Regions from separate parts of the Homo sapiens genome. Here region 1 is linked to region 2. The links come from fine-mapping of genetic effects on gene expression. A gene starts in region 2. The other region holds a variant in brackets. All regions are shown on one strand. Distances are from middle to middle. Region 1 overlaps RYR3 (ryanodine receptor 3). Region 2 holds the start of RYR3 (ryanodine receptor 3).

Region 1 (2,905 bases), 490 kb after region 2:
TGTTAGAGTTTATAGTATACTCTAAGTATACACTTTTAGTATGCATTGCTTGATAAAGTTTGACAAACAAAATTACGTACATACAAAGTAGAGCAATCACATTCATGAGGAATCTTTGCTGCAAAGGTATCCTTTGTGCTTTAGTTTTATTTGATTTTTCAGAATTCATTTTGCATTTGTCTTTTGGTAAACACATCTACTGTCATATGATGTAGACGAGGTTGAGTTTTTTCAAATCCACCTTTCGGGGACAGCTAGCTTATCTTAAGTTGCCTCTGCAGGTCTTCTTACAGGTATCACAGCCTCTTCTTTGACTCATCTACCTGCAGAAAGTCAATAAATCCCAGACAGATTCCATACTATCTTTTTTTTTTAATTTTTTGAGATGGAGTCTCACTCTGTTGCCCAGCTGGAGTGCAGTGGCATGATCTCGGCTCTCTGTGAGCTCTGCCTCCCAGATTCAAGCAATTCTTCTGCCTCAGCCTCCCAAAAGCTGGAGCTACAGGCGCACGCCACCACACCTGGCTAATTTTTGTATTTTTAGTAGAGATGGAGTTTCGCCATGTTGGCCAGGCTGGTCTCGAACTCCTGACCTCAAGTGATCCACCCACCTCATCCTCCCAGAGTGCAGGGATTACAGGCGTGAGCCACAGCTCCCGGCCTTATCTTCAAATTGGGGTAGATTCAATGGCTTAGGACTGAACCAGCTAGCATCCATTGGGATTGTCAGGGAACAATCACAAAGCAATGGAAATGAATCTGATACCAGGACTTGGATCCTGGATGAGCAGAAATGGCAAAGACATCTCAAGCCTCTGGTAATGAATGAATGCTCAAGGTCCTTGGGTTTACATTTGGACAAAGATGAGGTAGCAGAAAATGGCATTTCAAAACCCACCTACTAACAAACTAACCTGACATTTTGTTCATTCACATCACTGAATGAGGAAAAGCGGGTGTTTGTTTCTTGACAAAGGATGGTCATTTTCAGAAAGTGGTCTTCTTCCTTGCTGGTCCGGTTAGTCTGTAGAAGCAAAGTCTTTTGTTTCATTTCTGTTGTTGTCATATGCCAAGTATTTCTGAGCCACATGGGATAGGGTCAAAATTACAACTTAACGAATGGATGAGAGGACACTCCCTAGATGTTGAATAATAGTTGCCATGGTCCTCAGGGTAACAAG[A/T]GTTCATATTGTTCTGTTGCCTGAGTTAAGACACTGTGTAGTGGTAAATAGACCAGAAGGCGAAAGGAAGCTAAGTCTTGCCCCTGGCCCAGCTGTTGGCTAAAGCTACACCTTGCATCATTCACTTAACTCCTCTGGGTCCCATTTACCAATCTGCAGAATGGGATTGAGCTTACTTCCTGACTTCTCCCAGCTCTACTAAGATGTTCTGGTTTAAGGTCAGTTTCAACAGTATCTCTAGGATAGAGTAATATTTGAGAAATACAGTGCATTATTTCAGACAAAAAGATACCATGCCTCCGATAAGAAATATCTCCTAGCCATTTCTGGTATTTTTTGGATGTGGAACTACATACTGAGGGGTTAGGGCAGGAGTATTCTTCCTTATCAGTTGACTCCCTATTGCCTTTGCCTCCCTGCAATTAGATGTTCTCTCTACTACCTGATCTGAACAGTGACCTGTACTTGCTTTTATCTCCACTCTTAACTGAATTCTGGTGTTGTAAAAATGAAGTTAGCCTCAGTGCATATGGCAGGCTTTGTGGAGGTATGTGTATATGAATGCCCTATGCCACACACACCACATATGCCGTTGCGAATGGAAAGGAAGTGGAGAAAATATACAGTGAGCCACGCTGTTACTACTTGATTAGTTGAAGGTCAGTTCAAAGATAACGCTATTTTTCTGGGGCAGTCAAAGCAGATTTTGCTTGTGAGAGCTCATTGTATATTTTGTGTATATAACACCAGTTTGCAAATGTATGTTAAGCTAAATGTAACTAAGCTGAGCAAGTGTTTTTTGTTTTGAAACTTTTTTTGTTTCTGGAAAAATGACAGCAGCTTCCTCAGAAGGGAATGGTAAGTTAGAATGTGTTCAGCCCAAGAAATGCCAGTTCCTTGACCAAGGTTATAAACAATAAAATCAAAAAAGTGTCGTGATGCAGGAAATATTAGAGTGCCTCATTGTTCAAAGCCACTCCACCCCATGAAGTGTGATTTCAGTGGATCGAAAAAGGACAGGAAATATTTTTGAAGCTATCTTTGAGTTTTTCAAGGGCATTCACACTTACACGTGTGAGTGAATTTTCTTGCTCATTCTCCCTCTTTCATTCCCTCCCCTACCACTTTTCTCTCTCTTTTTTTTTTTTTTTTCTTCTTCTTTGAGACGGAGTCCTGCTCTGTCGCCCAGGCTGGAGTACAGTGGTGCGATCTCGGCTCACTGCAAGCTCCGCCTCCCTGGTTCACACCATTCTCCTGCCTCAGCCTCCCAAGTAGCTGGGACTACAGGTGCCCGCCACCACGCCCGGCTAATTTTTTGTATTTTTAGTAGAGACAGGGTTTCACTGTGTTAGCCAGGATGGTCTCGATCTCCTGACGTCATGATCCGCCCGCCTCGGCCTCCCAAAGTGCTGGGATTACAGGCTTGAGCCACCACACCCGGCCTTCTCTTTTGTTTTTATTCCCTTTGTTCTTGCACTTCTGCTGTTTACTCACAGGCATGTGTGCATACTCTGTCTCTCTCTCTCATAAATGTGCACACGGGAACGCACACTCATCCTCTTCTTCTCCTCTCCCCCTCCCCTTTCACCCTCCCCTTTTCTCCTCCCTTCCCCTCCCTTCTCTCCACCTCTGCCTCTGTCCACCATTTCTTCCTTCCCTCCTGCCCTCCTTCTCTCACTCTATCTCTTGCTTCGCATTCTCAGACCGACTTACAGAAAGTCTTC
Region 2 (2,905 bases):
GCAAGCATGGCAGATGCCTTCTAAGAGGTGAAGGGCCACAATGTACAGATGGTTTGACTTATTCTAGGCGGGTTTCAGAAGAGGCACAAGGCCCAAGCTGAAGCCTAGAAGGTAGCAGTTTGAGTACAATACAAGAAAAAAACATTTTTCTTTGCATTTCTGATGTTCATCAGAACATATGGGACGGAAGCTCAGGAAAGAGATCTTAAGGTAGCATCAAGAGATAGATGTCGTCCACAAGGAGGCGGTATATGAAGCTGTGAAATGGCTTGGGGTTTCCAGTGTCTTCCACCATCATCAGCCCAGAATTACCACCTTCCCAGTTGCACTTCCTCCTAAATCTACATCTCTGGTGCCTTTTGCCTTGAACAGTCTCTTGCCTTGGAGCTTCTCGGCCATCAAACAGAAGGGGGCACCCTGCACCGTCAGTCAAGGCAAGGACCAATCTGGCAATCCCCAACCATGGAAAAGGACCTAAGGCTGGGTGGGATGTAGGAGCCTTCCAGGACCTGGAAGGGAGCCTCCTGTAACTACTCTCTACTCCCTTTAGAGTCCACAGGGCTGGAACTCTAAATGCAGAATAAGGTTAGGGGTGGGCAGAGAGGAAGGGTTGTGATGCCACCTGACTTCCAAATTGAGGGTGGCACAGGATCCCCCAGAAGCTCCCTGGGGTACAGAAGTCACAGCAACCCTGGACAATCCAGGGGTTTGGTAAAGTGTACTTACCAATTTTGAAGAGGGGAAGGGGTTCTCTTAAGGTGTAGAAAGGACTATCCAGGGAGTTGCAAACTTTGTTGTAAGTGGACAATCACCCTCGCTCCTCACTGCACCGTCTTCTCCTTGCCCAACAATGCACGCGGGTCCTAGCAAGGTATTCGAGTCCAGATCTCTCTCTCTCTCTCTCTCTCTCTCTCTGTCTCTGTCTCTCTCTCTTTCCTCTCTCTGTCTCTCTGTCTCTGTCTCTCTCTTTCCTCTCTCTCTCTCTCTGTCTCTGTCTCTCTCTTTCCTCTCTCTCTCTCTCTATCTCTGTCACACACACACACACACACACACACACACACACACACACACAGGCAAAGTGGGCAAAGCGGGCAAAGCGAGCAAAGCGAGAGGGTTGGTACCCAGTCTGGGCGCGCTGGAGCTAAGCAACTGGCCTTTGTTTGTGAATTGGAGCAGTTTAGGGGACATCCTCCGGTCGCCGCGGGGCGCGCGCCTCCGCTGAGTGTGCGGTGCGGTACCCAGCGGTGCGGGGGAGGCTCCACCGCGCCAGCCCAGGGCCCCCGCACCGCCCCCGCCAGCTCGACGCGCCCAGCGTTGCGCTCTCCACGGAGCGGGCGGCCGCAGCGCACTTGGCTGGGGCGAGAGGCGAGAGGGGTGGGCGGACTGCTTGGTTGGCGTTGGCGCTCTGCAGTGCAGTGGAGTGTTAGCCCAGCTCCCTATATGGTCGGGGATTAGCTTGGCGCTGCTGAGGCTGAGGCTGAGCCAGGAGCTGGAGGAGGAGGTGGAGGACGAGGACGAAAAGGAGGAGGAGAAAGAGCGCAGCAGCAGTCAGCGCACGCCGAGCGGCTGCCGGGGGAAGCAGAGGCGCCGGAGGCTGGGGCACCGCCGACGCCTCGGGAGCCATGGCCGAAGGGGGAGAAGGAGGCGAGGACGAGATCCAGTTTCTGAGGACTGTGAGTCTCCGCGGCGGGGGCGAGGCCGTGGGCAGGTGGGGAGGAGCGCGGAGCGCGGCGAGGAGGGGCTGGCTGCGCTGCGCCGCGGTGCCGGGTGCCCGGTGCCGGGCGCTTTCTCCGCACCCGCGGGCTGCAGAGGCGGACCGGCCACCTACCCGCGGGGCCGCGAGGGGCTGCGTGGGAAGGGGCACCATCTCCTGCCTCTCCCTTGTTCCCCTACCGCCACCCCTGCCCCAGGCCCTCCACCTAGGACCGCTCGCTCTCCAGGCAACTTGCTACTTGGTCTGAAACCCTTGATGCCCAAACTTCAGCCGGGGTTTGTTCGCGGTTGTCCTGACCCATAAGATCGGCGTTGGAAGCCCTCGCCCCGGGGTCGGCCCTCTGACACCTCCATACTCCACCCCAGCCCCATTCCTCTTCCAGGGCGCCCCCACGCACAGGGGAACCTCCGGGAAGGAGCCAGCGGGGCAGGGGGGAGTGTGGGGAGCCGGGTCGGAGAAGCGGGCGCAGGCGCTTGGTCCTAGCCCTGGGATCGCTCGGAGGGGAATTCACCCAGCGCTGCCCCTCTCGTGTTAAGCCCCACGCCGGCAACTGCTGCTGGAGCCTGACTTGACTGACTGCCTGTCGTGTGTTCGAGAGCTGTGGCTTCTGCTCCTGGCTCCCGCGAGCCCCGCAGGACAGGGAAACCCCAGTCAGTGGCTCCGCGTCACTCAGGTCCCCTCCTTGACACCTGAGGGCGCTGCTCCGTCCCAGATTTGGGGGTGAGGGGGCGAAGTCTGTTGCAGCCACACCAGCCTTGCCCTGTAGGAGATAATACAAAGACTTTCAGGGTGGACGGCCACCCGGAGGGGTGGGGGCATTGGGGATGCATCCTAGCGCTGACTTCAGCCAAGTGACCTTGAGCAAGTCGCATAATCCGCCCTACTCAGCCTCAGTTTCCTCATGTGTAAAATAAAATGTAACCAGCGTTTCAGGGTGATAAGGATTAAACGTTATCGTGAATGTCATAATGTTTTGTAAACGGCAAATCGCTCTGTAAATCTTAGGTAATTTTATATGCGCTGCCTTGCTCTCAGGAATTAGAATGAAATTCTTTCTTTCCCTCTCTCACTTCCCTTTAAGGGTGCCCCCTTCTCCATGACCTGGTCTTCGAAGATCACAACTTACCTCTTGTCCATCTTTTGAACCACTCTCCTCCTGTTGAAGCGCTTCCTTCCAATTTACTTCAGTTT

Evidence for each region.
Region 1: its variant is fine-mapped to the expression of RYR3 in nasal epithelium (TOPMed, PIP above 0.99).

Annotation. Positions count from the first base shown.
Region 1 is chr15:33,803,153-33,806,057 of GRCh38, forward strand. The region is part of intron 69 of RYR3 (ryanodine receptor 3); the gene reads left to right. Among named protein-coding and RNA genes, the nearest start is that of CHRM5, 160 kb to the right of the region's middle. The variant A/T (reference allele first, on the strand shown) is at 1,182.
Region 2 is chr15:33,309,424-33,312,328 of GRCh38, forward strand. It overlaps RYR3 (ryanodine receptor 3), which reads left to right and starts at 1,544. Exons shown (of 104, transcript NM_001036.6): 1 at 1,544-1,673. The coding sequence starts at 1,623. It overlaps RYR3-DT (RYR3 divergent transcript), which reads right to left and starts at 1,236. Exons shown (of 3, transcript NR_120327.1): 1 at 1,155-1,236. RefSeq lists enhancers at 1,765-2,276, 2,277-2,786.